Linked DNA regions of Homo sapiens: regions 1, 2 and 4 are each linked to region 3. Evidence: fine-mapped expression QTL. A gene starts in region 3. Each other region holds a variant in brackets. All regions are shown on one strand. Distances are between the middles of the regions.

What was found. PIP is the estimated chance that this variant, and not a neighbour inherited with it, causes the effect. A credible set is the group of variants that fine-mapping cannot tell apart.
Region 1: its variant is the best candidate, but not a certain one, in a credible set for the expression of NRBF2 in subcutaneous fat (FUSION, PIP 0.78).
Region 2: its variant is the best candidate, but not a certain one, in a credible set for the expression of NRBF2 in whole blood (INTERVAL, PIP 0.62).
Region 4: its variant is the best candidate, but not a certain one, in a credible set for the expression of NRBF2 in monocytes (BLUEPRINT, PIP 0.64).

Annotation. Positions count from the first base shown.
Region 1 is chr10:63,385,071-63,392,607 of GRCh38, forward strand. All of the region lies in intron 1 of JMJD1C (jumonji domain containing 1C), which reads right to left. Among named protein-coding and RNA genes, the nearest start is that of MIR1296, 16 kb to the left of the region's middle. The variant C/CA (reference allele first, on the strand shown) is at 4,241.
Region 2 is chr10:63,236,888-63,244,424 of GRCh38, forward strand. All of the region lies in intron 3 of JMJD1C (jumonji domain containing 1C), which reads right to left. Among named protein-coding and RNA genes, the nearest start is that of NRBF2, 110 kb to the left of the region's middle. RefSeq lists an enhancer at 3,839-4,375. The variant T/C (reference allele first, on the strand shown) is at 3,846.
Region 3 is chr10:63,130,185-63,137,721 of GRCh38, forward strand. NRBF2 (nuclear receptor binding factor 2) reads left to right here and starts at 3,144. Exons shown (of 4, transcript NM_030759.5): 1 at 3,144-3,316. The coding sequence starts at 3,287. RefSeq lists silencers at 2,961-3,210, 3,421-3,690.
Region 4 is chr10:63,550,791-63,558,327 of GRCh38, forward strand. The region is part of intron 1 of REEP3 (receptor accessory protein 3); the gene reads left to right. Among named protein-coding and RNA genes, the nearest start is that of REEP3, 33 kb to the left of the region's middle. The variant C/G (reference allele first, on the strand shown) is at 3,724.

The sequences.
Region 1 (7,537 bases), 250 kb after region 3:
CTCAAGGAATAGGGAGGTCCGGAGGTTCAAGAAGAGGGAAAGAGACAGGGGAATGGCTGGTTAGTGGAGCAGTCAGAACACACATAGTGTTCTGGATTAAGTTTGCCTTCTTATACGGGTGTGGCTTCTGGTGCCCAAAACAATTACAATGCTAACATCAAAGATCACTGATGACACATCACCATAAGAGATGTAATAGTAATAATAATAAAAGTTTGAAATATCGTGATAATTGAAATGTAACAGACCCATGAAAATATTTTTCCACGTGCAGATGGAAAAATGAAACCGACAGACTTAATAGATGCAAAGTTGTCACAAATCCCATGCCTTCCCTGCCCCCGCCTTTTTTTTTTTTTTTTTTTTTTTTTTTGCTTTTTTTTAAGAGATAGGGTCTTGCTCTATCACCCAGGCTGGAGTATAGTGGTAAGATCATAGCTCCCTGTAGCCTCCAACTCCTAGGCTCAAGCAATCCTCCCACCATGGCCTCCCAAGCATCTGGGACTACAGGTGCATGTTACCATGACCCGGCTAATGTTTCTTTTTTAAATTTATTTTAGACATGGGGTCTTGCTATATTGTTCAGGCTGGTCTCAAACTCCTGGCCTCAAGCAATCCTCTCACCTCAACCTCCCGAGTAACTGGGATTACAGGTGCATGTCATTTCACCTATCATAAAACCTCAAATTTATTTAAAAACATTCAGCATCTGCTAAGTGCAATAAAGCAAACTACGATAAAAAATGTATATTTACTTATATATAGGTTTGTATAACCCAGGATACTCCAGATCCTGATTTGAACAGTATTTTAAGACAATAAAAAGTAGAAAAAAATGAAGAAGAAATATAACAAAAATGTTCAGAGCATATACGGTGAAAACTACAATACACCAAACATGGAAACTTAAGTCTTAAATAGATACACTGTGTTCACAAATGAAAAGATTCACTATTGTAAAGAATAAACTCTCTTTGGATGCAGGCTAACCCTAAAAAATGTGAAACATACACACATACACAGACACACACACACACACACCCCAAAAAGAGTAAGTTATCTCCCAAATCAACAGCCCTGAAGGAAAACACAAGGTACTAGCCGGACCCCACCCTCCCTAGCAGTGGGGTAACTAGGCATTTTCATATGCCCTAAATACAAACTTCACAGACCCCAGAATCTGTACTGTGGGCTACTGCTGCCAGGGTCAACACCCTAGCAAAGTGCACCTGCCCAGTTACCAGTTGCCTGCCTACAGCTGCTCCAACAGAAAGCAACCCACCTTCCCCAGTAGCAGGGCTGCAACATGATGGCTGGAGCCCTCACCTGACCATTCCACTGGTAGTCTGGGGATCATGCCACCCCTGTTGACCACAGCCAGTGCCTGCACAAACAATCAGGGAACCTGAGGACGGGTCTGCTCATCCAAGCTCAGCCCCCTCCAGTATGTAAGCACATTGCTCAGGGTCTGGAGATTACCTTGCTTAGTCTACCACCATTGGTACCTGAGCACTTTTTCCAGGGGCCAGGGTCCATTCAACTGACCACTATCACCAAAGCTGACACCCACCCACATGTGGGCACCTGCAGCAGGCCTGGAGACTGATTTAGTCAGCCTGTCACAACCTCTGCCAACACCAAAGTGAAATGCTTGGGTTCCAGGGGGTTGTCTTGCCACTGCTACTGACATCAACTATGCCACGCCTACCGCCCAGGGCCCAGTAACCTGCCCACTCATTCACCCCACTACTGCCATTCCTGGCACCCAAGCAAGCTGCCTGGAAGCCCAAGAATCGACCTGCACAGACCCACTAACTCTGGTGGCAGCATACGCCACACTGAAGCCCCAAAACAGACATGATCTTCTGACTAACACCAAAGGAGCCCAAAGTGGCCCATGTGGCAACCCATTCCCTAATAAAATGTCACCACAGCTTCCATTAAGAACCACCCACTAAACCACAGAAGAAATCACAGACAACACTGACCCTGTTTAATGCCTAAAAAAATCACATGGAGTCTACACCACTGCATATATCCAGAATCAAAGCAAAAGTGCCCTACCCAACCAACACCACAGATACATCTCTAGGAAAAATTCCTCCCCTATGAAAGGAAATTCAAACTATTGGAAGAAGTGACTGTCAATACCTGATGCATAGATATCAATGTAGAAATAAAAGAAACAAGAAGAAGCAAGAAAATGTGAATCCATGATAATAAATTCAAAGGAACACAGTAATTCTCCAACAACAGATTCCAATCAAAAAGAAATTTATAAAATCTTGGAATTGAAAATATTGATACTAAAGTATTCTGTTACACTGAGACACAAAGAAAATAATACAAAGAAAAGAAAAACAATTCAGGATATGAATGAAAAATTCACCAAAGAGACAGCATAAAAAAGGATGAAACAAATTCGGGACCTGATGTATTCATCGAATCAAACAAAATACATTCAAACCTTCAACAGACTAGATCAAATAGAAGAAAAAAATCTCAGAACTTGACAGACCTTTTGAAATAACCCAGTCAGAAGAAAAAAGAAAAAAAAAATTTTTTTTTTTTTTTTTTTTTTTTGAGACGGAGTCTCGCTCTGTCGCCCAGGCTACAGTGCAGTGGCGTGATCTCAGCTCACTGCCAGCTCCACCTCCTGGGTTCCTGCCATTCTCCTGCCTCAGCCTCCGGAGTAGCTGGGACTACAGGTGCCCACCACCATGCCCGGCTAATTTTTTGTATTTTTAGTAGAGACGGGGTTTCACCGTGTTAGCCAGGATGGTCTTGATCTCCTGACCTTGTGATCTGCCTGTCTCAGCCTCCCAAAGTGCTGGGATTACAGGCGTGAGCCACTGCGCCTGGCCGAAAAAAGAAAATTTAAATTTCCTTAAAGAACGAGCAAATCCTCATCACATATAGGACATCATAAAGCTACCAAATTTTCAAATTTTTTGTGTTTGAGGAGGCAACAAGAAAACTTGAAGGGCTAGAAAGTCTGTTTAACAAAATAATAGATGAAAACTTCGCAAGGCTGGCAAAAAGTTTAGATACTCAGATAAAGCACAAAGATCCCCAAAGGTATATAACTCAAAAATATCTTTTCCAGAGCACCTTATAGTAAAAATGTCACTAAGTCAAAGACAGAGAATTCTTTAAAAAGCAAGACATAACTATCTAGTCACTTATTAATGAACCCCAATCAGACTAACGGCAGTTTCTCTGCACAATCCTTACAGGGCAGAAGACAATGGGATAATAGGTTCAAAAAGCTGAAGGAGAAAAAAAAAAAAGCCGAATATACTATACCAAACAATGTTATCCTTCATAAATGATGGGGAAATAAAGTCTTTCCTAAACAAGTAAAAGCAAGAAAATTCATCATCACTAGACCAAATCTACAAGAAATGCTTAAAGGAGTCTGATGCTGGGAAAATAAAGAATGGTATCTATCATCATGAAAACACACAGAATATAAACCCCAGTGGTAGAGCAAATACAATCAAGGAAGAGAAAAGCCTCAAACGATAGCACTACAGAAAACCACCAAACCACAATGTTAACAAGAAGAGAGAAAGGAACAATGAATACACAAAACAACCAGAAATTAAGTAATAGAATAACAGGAATAAGCCCTCACATGTTAATAATAAAACAGATTAAAGTGTCAGACTAGTTGAAATGATTTAAAATAATGGCACAACTATATGCTGCCCAAAAGAAACTCATCTCCCCTATAAAGGTACATATAAACTGAAAGTAAAGGAATACAAAAGACATTCCATGCAAATAGAAACCAAAAGTGGGGAGAAGTAGCTACAATTAAACAGTCAAAAGCAGTAAAAGGAGACAAGGTAATTATATAACGATAAAAGAGATTGATTCATCAAGAAAATATAACAATTCTAAACATATATGCACCAAACAGCAGAGGACCCAGATGTATAAAGCAAATATTATTAGACCTCAATGGAGACCAGGTGTGCTGGCTTACACCTGTAATCCCAGCACTTTGGGAGGCCAAGGTGGGCAGATCACCTGAGGTCAGGAGTTCAAGACAAGCCTGGCCAACATGGTGAAACCCTATCTCTACTAAAAATACAAAAATTGGTGACATGCCTGTAATCCCAGCTACTCAGGAGGCTGAGGCAGGAGAACCGCTTGAACCTGGAAGGCAGAGGTTACAGTGAGCTGAGATCGTGCCAATACAGTCCAGCCTGGGTGACAAAGTGAGACCCTGTCT[C/CA]AAAAAAAAAAAAAAAAAGAAAAAGAAAAAAGATCTAAATGGAGAGAAAGAGTACAATAATAATTGGGGTTTCCAACAACCCACTCTTAGCATTAGGGAGATCATCTAGTCATCTAGACAGAATTTTGTTTTTCTTTTTTTTTTCCTTTTTTTTTTTTCCCAAAAACTCACTGCATGCTAACAGACAGAAAATTAGCAAAGAAACATTAGATTTAAACTGCACATTAGACCAAATGGACCTAACAAACATTTATAGAACATTTCATCCCACAGCTAAAGAACACATATTCTTCTCACCAGCAAATGGAAGATTCTCCCAGATAGACCATATTTTTGGACACAAATAGAGTCTCAACAAATTTTTAAAAATTAGAATTGTATCAAACCCTCAGACCACAATGAAATAAAACTAGAAATCAACAAAGAGGAACTTTGGGAAGTGTACGAATACATGGAAAGTGAACAACATGCTCCTAAATGACCACTAGGTCAAGAAAGAAACTAAGGATGAAATCAAATGTAGCTTTACAATAAATAAAAATCAATTCAAAACATACCAAAATCTAGAGAATATTTAATAAAGTAGTGCTAAGATGGAAGTTCATAATTAATACCTATAACCAAAAAGTAACAGAATTTCAAATACAGTGTCAAACCATACATCCCATGAAAACAGAATAGAACACGGCAAGCCCAAAATTAACAGAAGGAAAGAAACAATTAAGATCAAGAAGAAACAAATGCAACAGATACTAACAAAATACAAAGGATCAATGAAATGAAAAACTGTTTTTTGAAGAGATAAACAAAATCAATTAACTGCTTGTTGAGAATAAACAACAAAAAAGGATACCCAAATAAACAAAATCAGAAACGAAAAAAGAGAAATTACAACTGATACCACAGAAATACAAAAGATCATCAGAGACCATTATGAACAACTATACAAAAACAAACTGGAAAACCTTGAAGAAATGGATAAATTCCTGGACACATACAACTACCAAGATTGAATCAGGAAGAAATAGAAAATCTAAACAAACTAATAACAAGTAATGAGGTAAAATTAGTAGTAAAAAATCTCCCAAAAAAGAAGAGTTCAGGATCAGATGGCCCCACTGCAGAACTCTATCAAACTTTGAAACAACTAACACCACTTCTCCTCAAACTAGTCCAAAAAACTGAAGAGGAGGGAATTCTTCCTAATTTATTCTAAGAGGCCAGCATTATATTACCCTAATACCAAAACCAGACAAGAATGCTACAACAACAACAACAACAAAATAAAACTACAGGCCAATATCTCTGATGAACATACATACAAAAATTCTTATCAAAATAGAAAACCAAATTCAACAGCACATCAAAAACATCAAGATCAAGTGAAAATTTTCCCAGGGATGCAAGGATGGTTCAACATATGTAAATCGACAGTCATGAATCATCTTAATAGGCACAGAAGAAGTATTTGATAAAATTCAACATCCCTTCATAATAAAAACTCTCAACATTCTAAGCACAGATGAAAAATACCTCAACATAATAAAGGCCACTTGTGACAAACAACAGCTAGCATAATATTGAATGGGGAAAACTGACAACCTTCCCTTTAAGAACTGGAACAAAACAAAAAAGCCGCCACTCTCTTCACTCCTATCCAACATAATACTGCAAGTCCTAGCCAGAGCAATCAGGCAAAATAAGGAAATAAAGGCATCCAAATTGGGAAAGAAGAAGTCAATGTGTCCCTCTTTGAGAATAATGTGACTGTGTATCTAGGAAAACCTAAAGATCCCACCAAAAACCTCATAGAACTGATCAATTCAGTAAAGTTGCAAGATAAAAAAATCAACAAGCAAAAATCAGTAGCATTTCTATATACCAATAATGCAATAGCTGAGAAACATATCAAGAAGGTGGCCAGGCGTGGTGGCTGATGCCTGTAATCCCAGCACTTTGGGAGGCCGAGGCGGGTGGATCATGAGGTCAGGAGATGGAAACCATCCTGGCTAACACGGTGAAACCCCGTCTCTACTAAAAATACAAAAAATTAGCTGGGCATGGTGGCGGGTGCCTGTAGTCCCAGCCACTTGGGAGGCTGAGGCAGGAGAATGGTGTGAACTCGGGAGGCAGAGCTTGCAGTGAGCCATGATTGCGCCACTGCACTCCAGTCTGGGCGACAGAGTGAGACTCCGTCTCAACAACAACAACAACAACAACAACAACAACAAAAAAGACAATTCCATTTATAATACCTAAAGAAAAAACATCCATGAATAAATGTACCCCAAAAGGGAAAAGATGCCTACAATGAAAACTACAAAACAGATGAATGAAACTGAAGACACAAATAGAAAGACATCCCATGCTCAAAAGAAGAATTAACATCATTAAAATGATCATATTGTCTGAAGCGATACAAAGATTCAATGCAATCCTTATCAAAATACCAACATCATTTTTCACAGAAATAGAGAAAACAATCCTAAAATTCCTATGGAAGTAAAAAAGAGCCTAAGGAGCCAAAGCAATCCTGAGCAAAAAGAACAAAACTGAAGGAATCACACTACACTACCCGACTTTAAAATATATTACAAGCCTACAGTGGCCAAAATAGGATGGTATTGGTTAAATTAAAATCATGTACTAACCAGGCTTTAAACCAAAAGTAAAAGTTGCTAACAGTGTAACATGTATTTAAAACCACTGATTTCTTTCACTGTCGCAATTTCCTCAGTTACAATTTTGCAAACACCGTCTCACAGCCAACAGATTTTTCACTAAGGTTCCAAGAACACACAACACATTATGGAAAAAACAACCATTTTGATAATTGGTATGTGAAAAACTGGATATCCACATGAAATGAAACTGGACCCCTATCTCTCACCGTATACAAAATTCAACTCAGGATGGATTAAAAACTTAAAACATAAGACCCAAACTATAAAACTACTAGAAGAAAACAAAGGGAGAACACTTTAGGACACAGATTTATGCAAAGATTTTATGGCTAAGACCTGAAACTCCAGAGGCGATATAAATAATGATAAATGCGACTATATTAAACTGCACAGTTCTGCACGGCAAAGGAAACAATCAACAGAATGAAGAGACAACCTGTTGAATGGAAGAAAGTATTTGCAAGCTACTCATCGCACAAGTGACTAATAATTCAGAATATATGAGAAACTCAACAGTTTAAAAAAAAATCCCATTAAAAAGTGGGCAAAAGGCCGGGCATGGTGGCTCATGCCTGTAATCCCAGAACTTTAGGAGGCCGAGGTGGGTGGATCA
Region 2 (7,537 bases), 110 kb after region 3:
AAGATCATTTGAGGCCAGGTGTTCAAGACCAGCCTGGGAAACAGAGAGACCCTGTCTCTAAATATATATTTAAAAACAACTAATATTGAAATAGTATACATATACATCGTGTCAATGATTGATTCATACAGAACAAACACTGTTTTTGTTTTGTTTTGTTTTGTTTTTTTAAGACATCTTGCTCTTGTCCCCCAGGCTGGAGTGCAATGGCGCAATCTCGGCCCACTGCAACCTCCGCTTCCCAGGTTCAAGTGATTCTCCTGCCTCAGCCTCCCGAGTAGCTGGGATTACAGGTGCCTGCCACCATGCCCAGCTAATTTCTGTATTTTTAGTAGAGACAGGGTTTCACCATGTTGCCCAGGCTGGCCTCAAACTCCTGACCTCCGGTGATCTGCCCGCCTTGGCCTCCCAAAGAGCTGGGATTACAGGCGTGAGCCACTGTGCCTCGCCAAACACTCACTAAAAATTTTTTTTTAATATACAGTGCAATGAATGTAACTTCCAAATTAATACCACATCGAAGTTTTTTGGGCTGATTTTCACTTTTAGCATATAGTGCTATGGAAATGATGAATCTATAAATGAACTATAGTACCATACTTCTATTTTCTCAGAAAGAACGAATACAATCCAGTACAAATTGGAATGATCAGCAAGACTTGCTAGACTTGCCCAGTGACTTAGTCTTTTATGACACCTATTTGAGTCCATCCACTTCCTTCACTGAGGTCTTTGTAGAGCAATTACAAATACAGGTTGTATCCAAAATGCTTGGAGTCAGAAGTGTTTCAGATTTCAGATTTTTAAAAATTCTGTAACATTTGCATTACGCTTAGTAGTTGAGCACACATAATTAGAAAATCTGAAATCCAAAATGCTCCAATGAGCACTTCCTTTGAGTGTTTCAGATTCTGGGGTTTTTCAGATTTTAGATTTTTGGATTAGGGATACTCAACCTGTACATAAGAAATGTGTTAAATTACACAAAAAGAAAAAAAGGCGGCCAGGCACAGTGGCTCATGCCTGTAATCCTAGCACTTTGGGAGACCAAGGTGAGCAGATCACAAGGTCAAAACTTAGAGACCAGCCTGGCCAACACAGTGAAACCCCGTCTCTACTAAAAAAAAAAAAAAAAAAAAAAAAAAAAGCCGGGTATGGAGGCAGGTGCCTGTAATCCCAGCTACTTGGGAGGCTGAGGCATGAGAATCGCTTGAACCTGGGAGGTGGAGGTTGCAGCAAGCCAAGATTGTGCCACTGCACTCCAGCCTGGGTGACAGTGTGAGACTCCATCTCAAAAAAAAAAAAAAAGAAAAAAAGGAAGGAAGCTATAACTAAAATTCCAATGTATCATAATAGAAAAGCACATTAGCCACCTAGAATTTTTAAGGAAGGTATTATCCATAGTACTCTTTACGATGCCTTTCAGCATTTTTTTTTTACTGCTCCTAGAAAGTTTAACGTATTTAGAAAATTTAATTTAAAAAAGGGAAGAGAACATAAACTGAATGAAGCATATTAAATGCTTATTATAGTTTATCTTTAAAAAAGGAGTTTATATAACATAATTTGCTGAAATTCTATTAATTTTGAATAAAAATATTTAGAGTTCCTTCATGAAATAACATACTGAACATAAGGTCTTTAAATTAATACTCATGGTTATCTTTATATTATGATGCAGTTATAATCGATGTAAACTGTAACCTCTATAACAAATTGTTCCAGAAAGACAAAATTTTAGTTGTAACTGTTTTTTAGTTCTTCCATAACCTCATGCTGTCAAGCTGCCAATCTACCATCACCACTTTTTAAAGTGTTGGCTTCTCATATGCTATGGTAAGGGAAACTAGATTTGACAGCTTGTTGGAATTATGTTTGAAATAGTCTAAGTGTGGGACTAGGAGGCTCTCATTACTAAAATTTATTAGGAATATATTTCATTCAACAAGATTTTGAACACCTGGTATCAATTACTGTGCCAAGGCACTGGCAATATATCTAAGACAAAGTTCCTGACCTCAAGGATCTTACAATCCAGTGGAATTGAGACAGACACACAAATACGATACAGATTAAAGTATCTTTGTATCCTCTAGGATACAAAGGTGAGACAAAATGGGTTGGCGGGTGACCTAGTTAGGTGTGTCAGGAAAGGATTTACAGAGAAGGAAATATTTGAGTTGAGACTCAAGAAAAGTATGAAACCAAGGTTTTTGAGTTGGAACTTCAAAACTGCAAGGGCATCTGCCAGATAATAAGAGATCAGAAAAGAAGGTCTTTCAGACAGAGGAAAATTCATACGCAAGAATAGATGGGTGAAACAATATGGAATATAGGGACAAGTACACTGGTATGGATTGAATTAAGGACAGCAGAGTAGGTGAGGAAGAAAACTGAAAGACTGTAGTTTGGAGTGTTCTGTAATAGTCTAGGCGGGTAAGGATGGGAGCCTTACGATAGAGGAGAAGGGACAGATTAAGCAAAGTTAAAGAGGCAGAATTAGTAATTCTGGGAGACTAATATGTAAGGGCAAGAGAGAGACCTAAAACATTCCTACATGTTGATTTTTTTTTTGAGACTTGCGTCTCGCTCTGTCACCCAGGCTGGAGTGCTGTGGCACAATCTTGGCTCACTGCAACCTCCGTTTCCTGGGTTCAAGCAATTCTCCTGCCTCAGCCTCCTGAGTAGCTGGGACTACAGGCATGTGCCACCACACACGGCTAATTTTTGTATTTTTAGTAGAAACGGGGGTTTTGCCATGTTGGCCAGGATGGTCTCAAACTCTTGACCTCAGGTGATCCACCCACCTTGGCCTCCTAAGTGCTGGGATTATAGGCGTGAGCCACCGCTCCTGGCCCTACATGTTGATTTAAGTGACAAACTGGCATAGATGTGATTGATCTCATTAGCTGGGATACAGAATGATCAGGAAGAAAAACGAAATCAAGGTCTGATGGTTGAATGTGAATACAGTAAATAGACAGCAGAAGACATGGGTTTCACCTTTTCAATGATATCTACTCTGAACATTCTATTAAATATCTGCTTCTCCCCTCCCCAATCCTTATTGATCTTACACTGCTTTACATTTTCATTTTGTCATCGCATTTATTACATTGTATATCACACTATATAAGTTACTTATTACACTTATTATCTACCTGGCCTCTCCAGAATTTTAACTCCATGGGGGCAGGAAATTTTGTATGAATACTGCCTGGCACAGAGAAGATGCTTAGTAAACAGTTATTAAATAATGGTAGAGCAGAGAGGTCTGGAGTTTTGGATTCAGAAGACAGGGTTTTAAAAGACAGTGGAAATGTGACACGGCTTAGGGTGAGTAGTGAAATGGAAAAAACCAAAAAGGAACACTACAGAAAATAAGGAGCACTACAAAAAAAAATCACATAAACACTAAATCTTCTACAGAGAGAACAAACATACAGCAAAGACTGATTAAAAAAATAGGAAAACCTGAAGAGAAGTATCAGAGTAGCAACAGGAACAAAGAATTTCCAAAAGGACAGTGATCCAGTGTTAAATGCAAAGGTTCAGTAGGACAGTGATGCACACTTGAATATTAAATGCAGTAACTAAGAGATGATTAGCCATCTTAGCAACATCAGTTTTGTGAAGTGGAGGAAGAAACCAGGCTGCAATAACTGAAGATATTATTGGGAAGCAAGAAAATATAGATATAACGGTTCACATTATAAGAAGTCCAGCTATGAAGGAAAGGAGTAAGATAAGGCCATAACCAGACTGGGTGTGATAACTTTTAGTTTTTTATATTAGAGGGTTGAGTTTATATAATGAAAAGAAAAGCAATGAAAGAAAAATAGGCT[T/C]AAGATTTGGTAAACTTAGAAAAGTATCTGTGAAGACAGGTTCTAGAATACAAAAGATATTAGCTTTTTAAAACATAAGGCAGAGAGAGGAACAATTCCAAACGACTACAAAACACAATAAATTGAGTATATGACCAGCGGGATATCTCCTAAGGATAAAAAGAACTGGAACAAAAAAATACACTGTTTTCAGCAATTATACCATTGGTGGTAACCTTAGTATTGTTATTCTAAGTCTAGTGGTTACATAATGTAAGACAAAGCAAATGAGTAAGCCTATGATACTCTTATCATTCCTGGTGTTGCTGAGAAGTGGCGGTATTATAAAACATAAGTACTGTGAATGAGACTCGACTATAGAGCTAGACTGTTTTAATTTATGCACATACACACACACTTAGAAATTTAGGGGCAAAATAATACAGTGTGTGGGATCTGCTTTGAAATACGGATGCTCGACTTATGAAGGGGTTACATCCAGATAAACCCATCCTAAACTGAAAATATTAAGTTGAAAGCTCAGGAACATACTGAATGCTCCTTTTTCACCCTTGTGAAGTCAAAAAGTCCTAAGTCAAACTATCATACATAGGGGAATATCTATGACAGAAGACGAGCAGTAAAGTGAAACAATACTGGCCACAAATCGATAATTGTTAAAGCTGCATGCTACATGGAAGCACATTTTACTATTCTATAACTACATAGGTTTAAAATTATTTATATAAGGGAAAAAGTTTTATCATATTACTTTTCTGCTCAAAATGCTTCAAAGGCTTTCACTCCAAGCTTAATCAGAATAAAAAATAAAGTCTTTATAATAGCCTAAAAAGCCCAATTTAATTTACCCTTATAGCCTTTCTACATCATTTTCTACTAATTTTCACATAGTATGTTATTTTTTCAATCTTCTTGCTTTAGGGCCTATCCATTTTCTGTTACAACTGACACTTCCTGTCACTTTCCAGGCTTTACTTTTCTCCATAGTACTACTGTCTTCTAATATGCTAAACAGTTATTTTGTTTGCCATCTGTCTTTTCCCACAAGAAGGTAAGTTATAGGAGGCAACAAATTTTTGTTTTGTTTTGTTCATGGCTGTACCCTAAATACCTAAAGTAGTACCTGAGATGTAGCAGGTATCTAATACATATTTGTAAAACTGAAGTAGTAGAAGTTAAAACAGACACATCTCTAAGACAAGAGGAAAGCAGGTAAGGAGAGGTACAAAAATAGATATGAGAACAGGAAGCTAACGGGGTTCCTGCTTATAACCTCAATTTCCTTTGTGCAACAGGAGAAAGATCATCTATTAAGAGAAAAGGAGGAAGCTGAGTAAAGTAGTGATAATTTGGAATAATTACTTTAGGAAACAGAAGTTCACAGGGGCATGCGAAAAGAATGCCAAATGATATACTAAGGGCTAGGGTGATACTGGAGACAATACAATGGTACCAAAATACATGGATGTCATTTTCTGTGCAGTATTCAGCATTTAGAGGCTAAGTGGTTGAGAAGAATTTTCTACAGCATAAATGGTATATACATGCACTGTCCCACATACGATTATCTGGGCACTTGAAATGTGACCTGCACGACTGAAGAACTTTTTTAAAATTTAGTTTTATTTAATTTACGTTTAAATAGCCACATATGACTAGTAGCTACCAATAACGGACACAGCAGGTTTAGGATACATGAAAAAAGCAGGCCGGGCGTAGTGGCTCATACCTGTAATCCCAGCACTTTGGGAGGCCAAGGTGGGTGGATCATCTGAGGTCAGGAGTCTGACACCAGCCTGGCCAACATGGTGAAACAAACCCTGTCTCTTCTAAAAATACAAAAATTAGCTGGGCATGGTGGCACATGCCTGCAGTCCCAGCAACTTGAAAGGCTGAGGCAGGAGAATCACTTGAACCCAGGACGCGGAGGTTGCAGTGAAGCGAGACCACGCCACTGCACTCCAGCCTGGGCAACAGAGCGAGACTCTGTCTCAAAAACAAAAACAGATTACTTTTCTAATGAGTCTCTTGAAAGCACACAGAACAGAAACTGAGATTTACCCAAACAGACCTATTTATTTTCTTAACTCTGACCATATATATTCTCCTTATTAAAAAAAATTTAGAGTACAAAGTGTTTTCATATATATTACCTCATAGACAATGGCAATGATATCATACCTATTTTATAGATAAAAATAAAAATTTAAGTGGTTAAGTGGTTATATGCCTTTCATAGCATTTCAGATAGTAAGCAACAAAATTGGGAATGGAGTCCAAGATGGACTGTTGTTCTATTGCCAATTTCTGAGACTTTTAACAGATGTAAACTTTGACTTCTCTCAAAGAGCCAAAATACACTAACATAAATTATATATATATATATATATATAAATATATATATGGCTAGATAGGTATCTTTCAACAAAATCTCAATAGAATTTAGTAACTTATTCTACAATTGTTGTGAGCTGATTCTGGTTCTCTCTATATCTTAAAATTTGATTAATTTGGCCAGGCGTGGTGGCTCACGCCTGTAATCCTAGCACTTTGGGAGGCTGAGGTGGGAGTATCACCTGAGGTCGGGAGCTCGGGACCAGCCTGACCAACATGGAGAAGCCCCATCTCTACCAAAAATACAAAATTAGCCAGGCATGGTGGTGCATGCCTGTAATCCCAGCTACTTGGGAGGCTGAGGCAGAAGAATCGCTTGAACCTGGGAAGCGGAAGTTGCGCTGAGCCGAGATCACGCCATTGCACTCCAGCATGGGCAAGAAGAGCAAAATTCTGTCTCAAAAAAAATTTTTTTTCACTAATTTGTAAGCAACTTCTGATTTTAAATAATATTAGCAATAAATCAGTTCTCGAAGTTCTTGGTACAAAGGCAGAAATACCCACCTTGTACCACCAGCCAAATTAAATTGATAAAAAATACAAGTACAGACTTCCAGTTCCAAAATGACAATGTTTGGGTTCACTCCCCTCAGTAGAAAACAAAAAAGAAATACACAATGCTGAGATTATCACCAATAACATCCCAGACCTCAAATATGAGAGGGAGACAGTCCTGGGGCCACAGAGAAGTGAAAAAACCAGAAGCAGATAATAAGAGAATTGGACTTTCTATTTATTTATTTTGAGAGAGAATCTCACTTTCTATCTGCAGTGCCCCTCCCAGCAATCTGCCCAGGACCACACTTTCCCACCAACTTATGGTTTCTACAACACTGGAAAAAGTAAGATCAAGGTGGACAACCAGCTTCCCTACCACCTGGGGTTTTCTGGCAGGAGATCTATCCCTGCCTCAACTGACAGGAAGCATCAGGAACACCCAAAGGGAGAAATATCCCTGAGGACAGCCAGAAACAAAGGAAGCAGAGAAGGACTACCATCCCCAGTCCTGGAAACTCTGCTCCATAAATTAGACAAAGGAGATGCCATATCAGAGTGGCAGTTCAGCAGCACCATGCTGTGGAGATTAGTTCCACAGGTACCCGAGGCACAAACCCCTAGCTAGTCTTCGCACTACCAGGATATTCTCCACTTTGGGACCACTGCAATTTGGGACTCCTGGCACTCCTGACTGTTTACTAGAACCAAGGCAAATCTGGGCTTAAGATGTCATTTAGTGCCGAAAAGGAGGCAGCAAACTACTGGGGAAAACAAGAAAGGTAAATTATTTAAAAAGTCTA
Region 3 (7,537 bases):
ATTATTTTGGTCTTGGCCGGGCATGGTGGCTCACGCCTGTAATCACAGCACTTTGGGAGGCCGAGGAGGGTGATTCACGAGGTCAGGAGATCGAGACCATCCTGGCTAACACGGTGAAACCCCGTCTCTACTAAAAATACAAAAAATTAGCCAGGCGAGGTGGCAGGCGCCTGTAGTCCCAGCTATGTGGGAGGCTGAGGCAGGAGAATGGCGTGAACCCCGGGGGTGGAGCCTGCAGTGAGCCAAGATCGAGCCACTGCACTCCAGCCTGGGTGAAAGAGCGAGACTCCGTCTCAAAAAAAAAAAAAAATTATTTTGGTCTTCTAGCCTCCAGAACTGCTAGCCTCCAAATTTCTGTTGTTTTAATCCACTAAATGGGTAGTAACTTCTTACAGCAGTCATAGGAAATTAATACAGTGCCCAAGATAGAACTTTTCATTTTCCATACAAATTAGCTCCTTCCTATTGTTACCAGGGGGTCTTTGTTCTTAGAGCTCCCAAGATGGTGGCAGGCCACTTCCAAGATGGCGGCAAGCCTTTTGTTCTCTGACCTGGGGTTCTTGGCCTCACGGATTCCAAGGAATGGAACCTTGGGCCATGCAGTGAGTGTTATAGCTCTATTAGAAGCCGTGGGTCACAGAAGAGAACCGTGGAACCCAGCAACTAGTGTTCAGCTCGATTAGGACAAACCCTGGGCACTTAGCCTTGCAGGAACAATGGCGAGCCTCTAGCCCGATTGGGAGCAGCAATGGGCGCCTCGCTGGATCAGGAGCACAGTGGACACCCTGATGGATCCAGAGGGGTGGAAGTCAGCGGCGGGTCTGTGATGGCAGCAAACAGCGGTGGTGGACGGTGAGTGAAAGCTCAGCTCAAGCTGTAACAAACATGGACCAGAAGAGTGTGCAGTTGCAAGATTTAATAGAGTGAAAACAGAGCTCCCATACAATGGGAGGGGACCCAAAGGGGGTTGCCACTCCCTGCTCGAATGCCTGGGTTTATATCCTGATCATTGTCCCTCCCCCTGTGCTCTCAGGCGATATATGATTTGACTATTTCTTTACCTTCTGCTTCTAGCCTAATTTGTATTTTAGTGAGCCCTCTTTACTACCTGATTAGTCGGGTGTGAACTGAGTTACAAGCCCTGTGTTTAAATGTGGGTGTGGTCACCTTCCCCAGCTAGGTTTAGGAATTCTTAGTTGGCCTAGGAAATCCAGCTAGTCCTGTCTCTCACTATCTTGTCCACTTGGTTGTTTACTTTTTTATTTTTTTATTTTTAGAGACAGAGTCTCTCTGTGTCACCCAGGCTGGAATGCAGTGGTGTGATTGGTCTCAGCTCACTGCAACCTCTGCCTTCCAGGTTCAAGCAATTCTCCTGCCTCAGTCTCCCCAGTAGCTGGGATTACAGGCACGCGCCACCACACTTGGCTACGTTTTAGTGCTTTTAGTAGAGATGAAGTTTCACCACGTTGGCCAGACCAGTCTCAAACTCCTGGCCTCAAGTGATCTGCTCTCCTTGACCTCCCAAAGAGCTGGGATTACAGGGGTGAGCCAGTGTGCTAGGCCACTTGGTTGTTTAAATACGAGATTTGATTCTTCCATTTTCTGTATGCTTTACTGCCATTCCATCACTAACTCCTCTCAACCTGATGCCCAAAAATATATCTTGAATATATCTACTTCTCTTCCAAGGTTTCCGGCACATGGTAGAAACATGATAACTATGTAATGAGTGGATGCATGACCCAATCTTCCCTACTTCCATTCCAGTCTGAGCGCCCATAATTAGTCAATCAACTAGCTTGTCTTGGTTCTTTTTCCTTAGGCCTTCCACAATCTATTCTTCACATTACAGGGAAATTAATCTTTTCAAAACTGTAAATTAAAGCAGATTATTCTCTAGCTTAATATCCTTTACTTATTTCCCAATGCACTTTGAGTAAAATTCAAATGTTTCATTGTGCACTGCAAGGACACCTATGTTTTGGAAGTTTCCTATCTCTCTGGTATCTTCTTTTGCATCTCTCTGAAATGCTGCAGCTCCCGCCACCCGACCTCCCCGCCTTTAGAGTTGAGGCATAAGACATTTCCTTTGTCGAGAAGGGTCTTTGTTTAACTGGCATTTTAAGGTTTAATCTTAAAGATTACGCCCTTAGCCAGGTGCGGTAGCTCATGCCTATAATCCCATCAGTTTGTGAGGTCCAGGAGGGCGGATCATTGAGCTCACTTGAGCTCAGCAGTTCAAGATCAGCATAGGCAACATGGCGAAACCCCATCTCTACAAAAAATACAAAAATTAACCTGGCCTGAGCACTTGTAGTTCCTAGCTACTTAAGAGACTGAGGTGTGAGGATCGCCTGGGGCAGGGGGCGGGCAGAGGGAGGTTGCAGTGAGTGGAGATTGCGTCAGCAAGACACTTTCTCAAAAAAAATCACGCCCCCCATGAAAGGCTTTCCTTTACCACCCAACTCCACCTTGGTTACTCTATCACAGCTCCCTATGTGTTCCCTTTCCAGCATAAATCACAACTATTTGTCAGTGAATTCCATGACAGAACGAACCTAGCTTTTGTTTGGCACATAATTGTTAAATGAATGCAGTATTATATTTGGCTAGACCAAAATTGTTTCCCTATCAGTTTGTGAGCAACTTGAGGGCAGAGCCCTAAATCATTCGAGTGTGCTGACCTCTAGGGGGGTTAGTCCAGTGCATGGTCTAGAATTGCTCAAATCGGCCTTTTGAAAAAATGAATCATGTACAATGATAAAGGTGTGGACAGGACCACAAGTAACGGTGTAACGATTAGCAGATTTAAGGAAAAGTCAGTCTAAAAGGAAACGTGAGAAGCTAATTGCAGAAGACAGCCATTTCAAGTCTTCAACAGCAAGGCTGTACCTCCTCACGTGACTTCAGTGTAGACTTTAAGAACCTAAACTAACGCTTCTCGCGAGAGGAAAGATTGACCGCTCGCAAGCGTACATCAGCTGGTGCCCCGCCTTCCCTGGGCCCCACCCACTGCCTGTCCTCATTCCCACCTTGAACCAGCCTTTTGCGCGTGTGACGTCATGGCGCCGTGCGTGGCCTCGGCGGTGGCGCAGGGGGCGGGCCCGCGGCGCGGCGCCGGAGGAGGAAGTGGTGAGGTTGTTGCTCCTTCAGCGCCTATCGCTGGCTCTTGGGGCGCAGAGAGGGGCCGCAGTCTCCGCGGCTGCGTCGAGCTCCCTTGCAGTCCCCTCCATGTTCCCCGGCGCCACTACTCCCCTTCCTAAGGCCGCCGCTTACCCCGGGGTCTATGGAAGTAATGGAAGGACCCCTCAACCTGGTGAGTGTCCCACAGAATATAGCGTTCGTCTTGGGTGCCTTTGCCTCAGGAGCCCGGCCCCGTCCCCGGCGCGTCGGCTAACCCTTTAGGCTGGGAGGTTGGTTTGGCAGGAGTGGTCGCAGAGGCTGTGAGGGGCTGCTAGGCAGGCCCTGGCCCAACTGCGGCTCCAGGCTAGCCACTTCAGACTTTGCCCTCCTGGGGGATCCCCGGGAAGTCCTGGCGCCCCCTGTCGCGGGGCCCCGGGCGAGGGGATGCCACCACCTGGGGCTGCCACCTCCTCTCTGGCTGGGGGAAGTCCTCTTAGCGCCACGTAGCCACCTCCCTACAGCCTGGAGAGGCACTGAAGCCGGCCAAGGCAGAAATGGTGTGATACTGGTTTTAAGTTCTAGCAGCAGGGTCTGAGTCTGAGTCGCCCCGCTTTGGAGAGGTGGAGGAGTGAATAGCCTCCTCACCCTCCACTTCCCCCTCCTCACCCTTCACTTCCCCCTCCTCACCCTCCACTTCCCCCTCCTCACCCTCCACTTCCCCCTCATTTCTCACATACATTCACATGCATAAACTGAGTCTACCGTCTTCCAAATATATTAGAGACAGCTGGGAAAAAGACAGCCGTTCCTGTATTTAGCTCAGATTCATCAATTTAGGCATCATGAAAGTGTAATAGGTGTTTGCTGTTCTCAGGAAAATGGCTGATAGCCTGTTTACTTGTGTTTTAAGGCGTTTCAGGTGTTGCAATTAAAAAACAACACAACAGAACCCCACTAACAACGGGAAGCATGAGTTCTTTTCAGACTGGCCATTGCATCTTTTAGTTTTCCAGAGAGGTTACCCATTTTGGATGTAAAAGTCAGATTACTTAAGGTTGCACACAGGAAGAACTTTTGAGTCACAGGTTTGCAATTCATTTGCGATGGTGGAATTGAAAGAAAGCTCTATAGAGGATTCTTTTCTCACATTAGAACTCTGAGTCCTAGAAGAGCAGTAGAGTCAGGTGGTTTAAGACTCTAGGTTTTGAAGCTATGCTGCTTGGATTTGAATTCTAACCTCGTCACTTGATATCTGTGTTACCTTGGGCAAACTACTTGGCTTCACTCGGCTTCAGGTTTTTTGGGAGGATTAAAGGAGTAAATAGGTGTAAAGCACTTAGAACTGTACTAAGTACATAGTACAGTGTAAGAGTTAGCGATTATAACCAGACCATAAGCCCTTAATTTAAAATCTATTTGTAGAATAAAGGTTTGGACTTGAGCTTTAAAAGCCTAAGATTCTCGGACCAAATCACTGGTGCCAGGTTAACTGTTGTGAGGCGCCCCTCCCTTTTAAGTTGGGTCTTGCCCCAGGTGGTAGGTATTTACACTTAAGACGAATTGGACTACATTTGCGAGTTTTTTTTAACCAGGGAACTGGCCAGGCGCCGGGGCTCACGCCTGTAATCCCAGCACTTTGGGAGGCCGAGGCGGGCGAATCACTTGAGCTTAGAAGTTCGAGACCAGCCTGGGCAACATGGCGAAACCCGGTCTCTACAAAAAATACAAAAATAGCCTGGCGTGGTGGCGCCCGCCTGTGGTCCCAGCTACTCGGGAGGCTGAGGTGGCAGGATCGCTTGAGCCCAGGAGGTGGAGGTTGCAGTGGGCCGAGATTGTGCCACTGCACTCCAACCTGGGCGACAGAGCGAGACTCTGACTCAAATAACCAGGGAACTGTCTTGCACTTTTCTTGTTTTTAAGGCGACATATAGTTGGCAATGAAATACAGTGGATGGCTCAATACTGAAACTTCACAGGAGTATTACTAGAAATAATCAGCTGTTTACGAAGTGCTTCAGAGTTCAGGTGTCCTTGCCAAATGAGCATTGGTTCAGTTCTAGTTAGCTTCACATTATTTGGCTGCAGAATAACCCCCGCCAACTGCCCCACGAATGTGTGATGTTTTAAAAGGAGACTAGAACTGGGTGACAGTTGCAGATAGAACTGCAGAATCACTACCAGTTCAGGAAAAATTAGTTAAATGGTGGCAATACCATTTAAATTCTCCTCCATAAAACGGAGCGAGTTTCGACAGAGTCTTTTTAAGCAGGCTAGCGTAACTCCGTATTTCAGCCATAAAATTTATGTAGGCAAGTATCAGAAATTTGGCATCTTGAATTCTTTTTTTTTTTTTTTTTTGAGATGGAGTCTCTCTCTGTCACCAGACTAGAGTGCAGTGGCGCGATCTCAGCTCACTGCAACCTCCGACTCCCTGGTTTAAGCGATTCTTCTGCCTCAGCCTTCTGAGTAGCTGGGATTTCAGGCACGCGCCGCCACGCCCAGCTAATTTTTGTATTTTTAGTAGAGACGGGGTTTCACCATGTTGGCCAGGATGGTCTCGATCTCCTGACCTCGTGATCCCCCCGCCTGGCCTCCCAAAGTGCTGGGATTACAGGCGTGAGCCAGCGTGCCCGGCGGACACCTTGAATTCTTAAACCATTTGAGTCTTGAAAGATCTAATTTCCAGCATAGTTGTTTATTGGAAGGTAACAGTAGAACAGACGTTGACGGTTACTTGAATGAGTACCAATTACAGGCCTCTGGCACTCAGAATTGTCACTCACAGTTTTATAAGATGAGGTTTTTGAAAATTCAGACTTTTTTTTTTTTTTTTTTTCTTTTTTGAGACGGAGTCTCGCTTTGTCACCCAGGCTAGAGTGCAGTGGTGCGATCTGGGCTCACTGCAGCCTCCACCTCCCGGGTTCAAGCAGTTCTCTGCCTCAGCCTCCTGAGTAGCTGGGATTACAGGCATGCACCACCCTGCCCGGCTATGAAAATTCTGACATTCTTTTATGTCAGTGAACACCTAACTTAGTATCTAGTTGACTCAAGATGAGAGTTCTCAATGCTATAATTTGAATGTCTTTGAAAATTCCACTAGTATTATACAAGCTTTTTCTTTTTCTATACTCAGAGAGTTACTAATGCAATAAGCTTTGTCAAATGACGTCGTAGTGTAGTCCAAATTCATTGTATAAGGACTTATCACAGTACATGGATTTGTAATCATGTGTCCTCAGAGCATCCTCGGAACTTAGTAAGGTGTGTTTTCCAGTTTTACAGATAAATAAGCCTAAGCTGAGAGAATTAGGTAATTACTTAGGTCAGTAACTTAAATACATTATGAATCACGAGTTATTTTGATATCAAGACCTCTTTCTAGCAATGCTGCCATATTGTACTCATCATGTTCATTTCAGTATGGTTCTCATCTATATTGAACTGTAGATTCTGTGTTAGCATTTATTACCTCTGCTCCAGTATTGATTCTTTTATGTTAGGTTTGGCAGTAAGGGCCTTAGAAATTCCTCACAGTGAATTTTTAAGATCTGGAAGAGACTAGTTTGAAATATTCATTTTAATATGTACCACAGAGGTAATGGATTCTAATTATCTGGTTATTGAAGTTTGTCAAAAGAAAAATTGTACTTCCACTGAAGAAAAAAATAGCTAGTCTTTGCACTCTGAATAACTTTGTTTCATTAGGGTTTTTTGGTCAATTTTTCTTTAAGAGACAGGGTCTTACTCTGTTGCCCACACTCAAGGGATCCTCCTGCCTGAGCCCTCCACAATAGCTGGGACTACAGGTTTGCACCACCATGCCCAGCTAATTTTTTCAAAAACTTTTTGTGGAGATGGGGTCTTGCTGTGTTGCCCAAGCTGGTCTTGAACTCCTGGCCTCAAGCAATCTTCCTGTCTCAGCCTCCCAAAGTGTTGGGATTACAGGCATGTGCCACTGTGCCCAGCCTGTCAGTTTTAAATATGGAAAAATTATAACTTATAAAATTAGTGTATATTTAGATATTTCTTTCCGTACACATTTTGTCAGTGTGACTACTGGTAACAAATGTCAAAACTCTTGTGAGATAATTTCTAGTTCTTTGGTTTGTTTGCTGCTGATTTGGAAAGTGATGTCAGATCTTAATTTATATGTGGCTGTTGCTCATGTTTTGCTTACCTCTGCTGCAAAGGGCAGGGTCCATGTGACTGCCTGGCCACAATCGTTTTCTATGTGTTTAGCCCTTAAGAGTGCTGAGAATGTTTGTTGAGTAACAGCTTCCCTCCAGAGTGGTCAGTTCTCACATCACATGAGGTAGTTAATGAAGCCTCTTACTTTCCAGCTTCTGTAAGAAAAGTAGTCAGATATCATGGTCCAAGGAATGGCCTTATGCATACCTGGAGTCCTTATACCTAT
Region 4 (7,537 bases), 420 kb after region 3:
ATCCTCTCCATCAAAAGAAAATAAATAAGCTATAAATGAACTAAAAATATATAGAGATACAGGTATTTGCTTGCTTTCAATGTAGGAAAGTCTTAATGCAAAGTTATTTAATACAAGGGTTCACAGATATACAATATATACACTTCAGCAAAATTCATAAAATCAAAAGGTAACAATAATCTATAAAAATAACAACATATAAAACAGACAATTAACATATAAAACTAACACTAGAATCAACAACACTCCAGTAGTACAAGAATAGCTAGTGTCCAGATCTTGGTTTCAAATACCATTTTCCAATAAAAGGAATAAAGGCTCCTTAGAGACATGTTGATTCTAGGAATGGGCAGGAAATATACATGATGAGCCTGCAGCATCTTGTAGTGCCAGAAAGTAAAGAAAGTGCTCAAACAAAAACAATGTAGGTATGTCGTAGGGACACAGGACATTGAGAAAGATCCCAGTGACCCAAGGAGATCTGGAACAATTTAAGCAGCAAAATAAAGTAGTATTGGATTATACCATCCAAAGCATAAAATAAATATCATGAGTCCATACTCATATAAATAAATGAATACAGGAGAATAGGTAAATCTCTCCTGGAGAAGAATCCATATAATTTATGTAGATACTCTGCCCTCAAGGAAATGGAGCATCACTCCCCACTCCTTAAGGCTGTACATAGTGACTTTCTGCCAAAAAACGTGGTATGTAAATCTGGGGAGGGGCGCCAGTAACTTTACCTAACATATACTACCTCAGCCACATCATCTTTGTGATATTACTCCCAAAAACCCATGACCTGAGTCTAATCTTGAGAAAAATTTCAGACAAATGTCCCTAATTGAGGGACATTCTAAAAAATACTTAAGTAGCACTCCTCAAAACTATCAAGGCTATCAAAACTCAGGCTTGAGAAACTTAGTGAGGAGCTTGGGAAAACATGATGAGTAAACATGATATGGTAAATGGATGGGATCCCAGATGGGATCCTGGAAAAGAAATGAGACCTTAGGAAAAACCAGGAAAATTTGAATAAAGTATGGACTTCAATTAATAACGATATATTATTATTAGTTTCTTAATTGTGGCAAATGTGTCATACCAATGTAAAATTTTAAGAATAAGAGAAATCAGTTGTGGAGTTTATGGGAACTATCTGTACTATCTTCACACTTTTTCTGCAAAACTGTTCTAAAATTAAAATTTTATTTTAAAAGAGTAAGTGGCCAACATTATGGCATTTCTGTCTTAATTATTATATCTCCTAAATAAGGCATTATCTTATATAGTCACAAGACAAATATCACTTAAGAAATACAGCACTGGGGCCGGGCACAGTGGCTCACGCCTGTAATCCCAGCACTTTGGGAGGCCGAGGCAGGTGGATCACGAGGTCAGGAGATCAAGACCATCCTGGCTAACACGGTGAAACCCTGTCTTTACTAAAAATACAAAAAAAAAAAAATTAGCTGGGTGTGGTGGCACATACCTGTAGTTCCAGCTACTCGGGAGGCTGAAGCAGGAGAATGGCATGAATTCAGGAGGCGGAGCCTGCAGTGAGCCGAGATTTTGCCCCTGCACTCCAGCCTGGACCACAGAGCAAGACTCCGTCTCAAAAAAAAAAGAAAGAAATATAACATTGATGAACTATTAATACCTAAAGTAGTTCATATCCAAAATACCCAAGTTGCCCAAGTAGTGCCTTATGTAGCTACCTGGTTATTGTTTTTAATACAGAATCCAATCAAATAGCATTGCATCTTATTGTCATTTCTCTTTTTTCTCCCTAGCAGAACAGTGCCCTCATGATGAGGAATTTTAACACCCCTTCTTTTCAGTTGATAGATGGACTGCCCTTCATTTAATCACTTGTATATGTTTCTTTAGGGAGGAAAAAAGTAGTAAAGTTAGGATTGGTGGAGATTATACCATTTCTCAAGTAGGATCATCCCAGACTGCCTTTGAGTGACGTTTCATTAGACACAGGGGGCTTGCTAGTGCCAAGCAGCCAGTCTGCTGGTTTTGTGCTGTAATTACTGATGTCAGAATTAAATTAGGTGGTAGTGTAGTTCTTGTGGCACATGTTTGTTTCTTTTTCTGTCAGGTTGTCCCAGATAGAAATAAAGTTCCCACCTCTCTGATTTTCTTGTAGTAAGAAAGTACTTAGACATTGTCTTTGTCAGTTGACCATCTCAAGAGAACATGGAGAATACTCACAAATGCTTTTACAATGACTTAATTTTTATGTTCTGGTTGTTACTTCTGTAATGTAACTTCTGTTATTGTTCACTTACTTTACAAAATAAGAAGACCAAACCTTTTTTTAAAGCCCCGTTAATGAAAGACAGTAAACAGGCAGTGTGGCTCTGAGAGGAGGGAGAGCTCACAACATGAAGAGCGAGATTGTTCTAGCTACAGGGAGTGGCATGGGAAAAAATTACTGTGTTGGAGATGCTGGAGGTATTAGAGTGATTTGAATAAATGGAATGAAGGAAGTGGTTTAAGAAATATGAAAATAGAATGTTTTGGTTTCCAAATCATCACAAATTTAATTTTCATTAAAAAGCGATAGCAAGTTCACTGATGTATCCCTAGTGATAGAAAAACACAGTGCCTTGACATGTAGTATGCCGTCAGTGATACCTGTTATTGTTTAATGGAGACTTAAAAGATTGTTTGAAAGCAAAATATTAAATTAACCTGGTGAAGCGTTTTCATGCTCATTGGTGAAGTGCCTGTAGGTGACTGTAGCTTAGACTGTACATTAGGTATGAATGTTCTATGGGAGGGCTTGGCCAGAATTTTATATCTGAGTTCAGTTTAGAGAAGTTCACTTTGTGGTCATGTGATACTGAATGAATTGCACAGAATAGGGTAGAATTTGTGTTTATGGCTTTCCTTACTCATCCTCCTTTAATTTGTAGAGACGGATGTATTTCAGGAGAGGAAATTTTTTGCAATGTTTTCACAATTGTTTGTACATGTTTTTTCTTCACCAGAAGCTTTTTAAAACTTAGATTGGCCGGGGGCGGTGGCTCACGCCTATTTGTAATCCCAGCACTTTGGGAGGCCGAGGCGGTTGGATCACAAGGTCAGGAGATCGAGACCATCCTGGCTAACACGGTAAAACCACGTCTCTACTAAAAATACAAAAAATTAGCTGGGCGTGGTGGCAGGCGCCTGTAGTCCCAGCTACTCAGGAGGCTGAGGCAGGAGAATGGCGTGAACCCGGGAGGCAGAGCTTGCAGTGAGTGGAGATCGCACCACTGCCCTCCAGCCTGGGTGACAGAGCAAGACTCCGTCTCAAAAAAAAAAAAAAACCTTAGATTGCAATTGAACTTTCACGTTATCTTTAAGTCAGTGGGCCTAATGGTAAGTTCAAATTTTACACATCCTGTGCTTAAGGGGCTAAATAAAGTAAACAACTCCTCTGAGTCAAGAGTTACTCAGGAATCAGGAATTGGTCAGATCATGAGTAATCATTTGATAGGAATTAAAGGGTGTGATGATTGTTGATTAAAGACATGCATATTCCTTTATGTAGACTTAGTATACAATCAGAAAATGGGTCTCAGATATTTTTTTTATATGACAGTAGTATGCCTGTGGAATTACAATTGTTTAGAGAACTTCGGAATATTGACATCATCGAACTGTTAATATTGGGGATCTGCTATGAGCTATACATTGTATGAAATACAGGTTTTCTTTGGGGGA[C/G]AGTTTTTTGGTATAGAGGAAAGAGCACAGGTCTTCAAATTAGAAGTTCTATGTTTTGGCTTTAACACTTGCTATGTGCTTAATTCATAAGATCATTAATCTCTCTAAGCCTTACTTTTATCATCTGTAGAACTAGAACAATAGCACCTACCTCGCCTATGAATTTTCTGTGTGTAATGACAATCAGGATGGAAAAATTGCAGCTGGAAAACTGTGGAGTGCTGTAGATTGTAGGGACCATTGTCTTCTTTCAGCCCTATGAGCCATTCTGTGGTACTCTACCCACAGGATGCTGAGTTACTGGAGTGCTTCAAGGGTTTGTAGCCCTTGATTCTACAGTGTACTCTGTTCCAAGTTCAGCATTCTTCTAAACATTTTTTTGTTGGGGTCTACCACATGGTAGGCCCTTGTGGTTGTAGTGGGGCGTGGCTAGTGGGGAGAGAGTGAGGAGATGAGGAAGTTTGAGTCTGAGTTGCTGTAGCTTGATTTTTTTTCCCCTCTAGTTTCATCTTTACCTTTCCTTTTAGAATAGAAATTATAGGCTCTGGAGTAAAATTAGAAATGTAGCTCCAATTTAGCTAAGTTTAGCTCTAACATGAAAATTCCAAGTTTCATAGCTTTTGATGAGTATTATGAAAAACATAAAGTCTTTCAAAGGAATTTCCACTGTCTTTTTCTCTCCTTCATGGTTTTAAACATGGGGACCTTTGGTTATAGAATTCAGGATTTGGGGCTGTTGTTGTTTTTTTCCCCATGGGTTTGACTCTTTCTCCTTGTATGGAATTTTCATATTTTTCTTTAAGGTTTAGTCACTTAACCATTGTTTTACTAAATGGGAATTCTCTACTGACAGAGATTTTTAGCAACAAATGTATTTTTCTTAAAATTTGTGTAAGACAAAAATTACATATTATTTTGGCAGTGATCATGCATGACCTTTGCTACCTGATGGCTGCCATGGCAGAAAAACTCATGTAGGAAGTTTATCACAGGGAGAATATACACAGGTACCTTGGTTATCAGTAGACTTTGCACTACTTGTAACCATTTAGTCTACTCTTTGTAACTCTCTCTTCTTTTATCATGATGTCTTACATTTATTTTTGCATCTAAGTGAAGGATAGAGCGTGGCAAAAGTCCAGATAACCTATAATGACTTTCACATTACTTTAAAAAATCCAGTTAACCAACGTACTGTACTGACAACATATTGCTTAATCATAATCAGTTTTAATCCAACACCAAACTAAGCATAATATTGTCACACATTGGTTTGTTGAAGATGCAGAATTTAGAAATTCAGATCCTTGAGCCCTACTGCCAAAAATCCTCCTTCCCAGTTGATTATTTTACATAGACAGGTTTGGGAGCTACTGAACCATTTGTAAGGGGCACTTTTCAAATAATTGTCAAGGGTTTAAAATTCATCAGAGGATTCTACAATCAGTGAAAATAAGTTGTCTTAGGAACCTGTTAACTGCATTTATCTCTTTATTTATGAAGTTCCTAAGAAACATTTCCTCTGGGGGAAAAATGCTACCTTGAAAAAAAACCAGAAAACCATTCTTATAAACTATTTCTGGGATTCCTCATTGAGATTAAGATTCTGATTTTATTTTATTATTTATTTATTTATTTGAGACAGAGTCGCTCTGTCACCCACTGCAACAGAGCTCACTGCAACCTCCGCTTCCCAGGTTTAAGCGATTCTCCTGCCTCAGCCTCCCAAGTAGCTGGGATTACAGGCGCGGGCCACCATGCCCGACTAATTTTTTTTTTTGTATCTTTAGTAGAGACAGGGTTTCACCATGTTGGTCAGGCTGGTCTCGAACTCCTGACCTCAAATGATCCGCCCACCTTGGCCTCCCAAAGTGCTGGGATTACAGGCGTGAGCCACCATGCCTGGCCTATGATTCTATTTTTTAAATTCATTACAGTCTATATTAATATTAGAGAACTAATACTCAAACAGAATTTGAGTGAACTATTATAAATGACAGAAAAATTTGCCCTCTCTCTTAATTTTACATGAAATCATTTTTAAAATTGGTGGGGTTTTTGTTTTGTTTTGTTTTGTTTTGTTTTGTTTTCTGTTTGCTTGTTTTTTTTTTTGTTGTTTTGTTTTTTTTTTTTTTTTTTTGAGACGGAGTCTCGCTCTGTCGCCCAGGCTGGAGTGCAGTGGCGGGATCTCGGCTCACTGCAAGCTCCGCCTCCCGGGTTCACGCCATTCTCCTGCCTCAGCCTCCCAAGTAGCTGGGACTACAGGCGCCCGCCACTACGCCCGGCTAATTTTTTGTATTTTTAGTAGAGACGGGGTTTCACCGTTTTAGCCGGGATGGTCTCGATCTCCTGACCTCGTGATCCGCCCGCCTCGGCCTCCCAAAGTGCTGGGATTACAGGCGTGAGCCACCGCGCCCGGCCTTTGCTTGTTTTTTGATCCCAGGGTCAAGCCAGGAAACTTGGTTGTTATAATGGGCTGCCTTTTTGATTTCACTAAATTCTGTGAATTCTCCCTATGTATAGTGTTCCATTGTCCTCCCAATAAAAACATACTATAGTTTCCCTTGGCTAAAACCCATGTAGGCAGTGGTGTGCCGGTAATGCTTGACAACTGAGGGAAAGAGGACTGATTCATACAATTTGCTAATTTCTGTGATGTAAAGTACTGCCTACAATAGCCTAGTTCAAGCTCGCAGCGTGACCTCACTGAATGTGGAGCTGGAAAGAAATGCACACAGCACACTTAGTATTTCTAGTATTTCCACCATACAGATAGAATAGAAGTATATAACTTGAAGAGCATAGTAAAATGTAAAATAATTAGGAATAAATATAATTAGAAAATAATGAGTTTTTGACTATTTCCCTTTGTCTTTAATAAATGTTATATGTATAACTTATCTTACTGTTTGGATACCAAATAAACTGTTTCCATGCTTATCTTTGGGAAATGCCACTGTTTCAAAATGGGAGGTTTTTGCTTAGCGTTTTCTTCCTTATTCTATTGTTTAAATTAATTACCTACGTTAAATTTATCAACAACAAAGAAGAAGCTCTCCAGGTGATTTTGACGTGTTGCAGGGTTGGGGACCAGTCTTTTCTTGGTTTGCCTGGCACCTTAGAGCTGCATTTTGTGCTTAATTACACTGACTACTACATTTTAACTGTTTATGCTCTGTTATGTTCTTTCAAATGATTTGAGAATTTTTTTTCCAAATTGATATGTTAAATTATAAAGAAAAATAACAGAATTGAGACTAGAAAATAGCAATCAAAGAAAATAAAAATTTGGTGAGTACAAATATAAATATGCCAGTTCTGAGGACCACAAGTGTTGATATAGTAGAACAACAGATTTGATTCTGAGTTTCCTGGCAACCCATGGAGGGAAGCAAGGAATAATATAATTCTTTTCAGATGGAAGGAAGGCATCAATTTCTCAAAGAAAGCTAAGCATTGCATTGTACTGAATTTCAGAGTAAATCTCTCATATGAAATTTCATATGTAGGGATACTGACTAATAAAATAGTGCCGTATTTCTCTACTTCTTATGGATTTTATAGAGCAGATTATTATAATATACTTCAAAAAAATCAAGAATGTAGTATGACTTTCCCCCCAAAGGAGACAGGTGTAATAATTTAGGAATATAACCTAGTAATCAAGTTAGAATAACATCACCTAGAGGAATAAAGATTTACAACAATGTTGGCAAAAGATGACAGATAGGTTTACCTAGCTCCTGTCCTTGGTTAGCGTGAGGTTATGGTGCTGTGTTGACAAGAATTCTGAGACCAGGGTCAGCAGAAACAA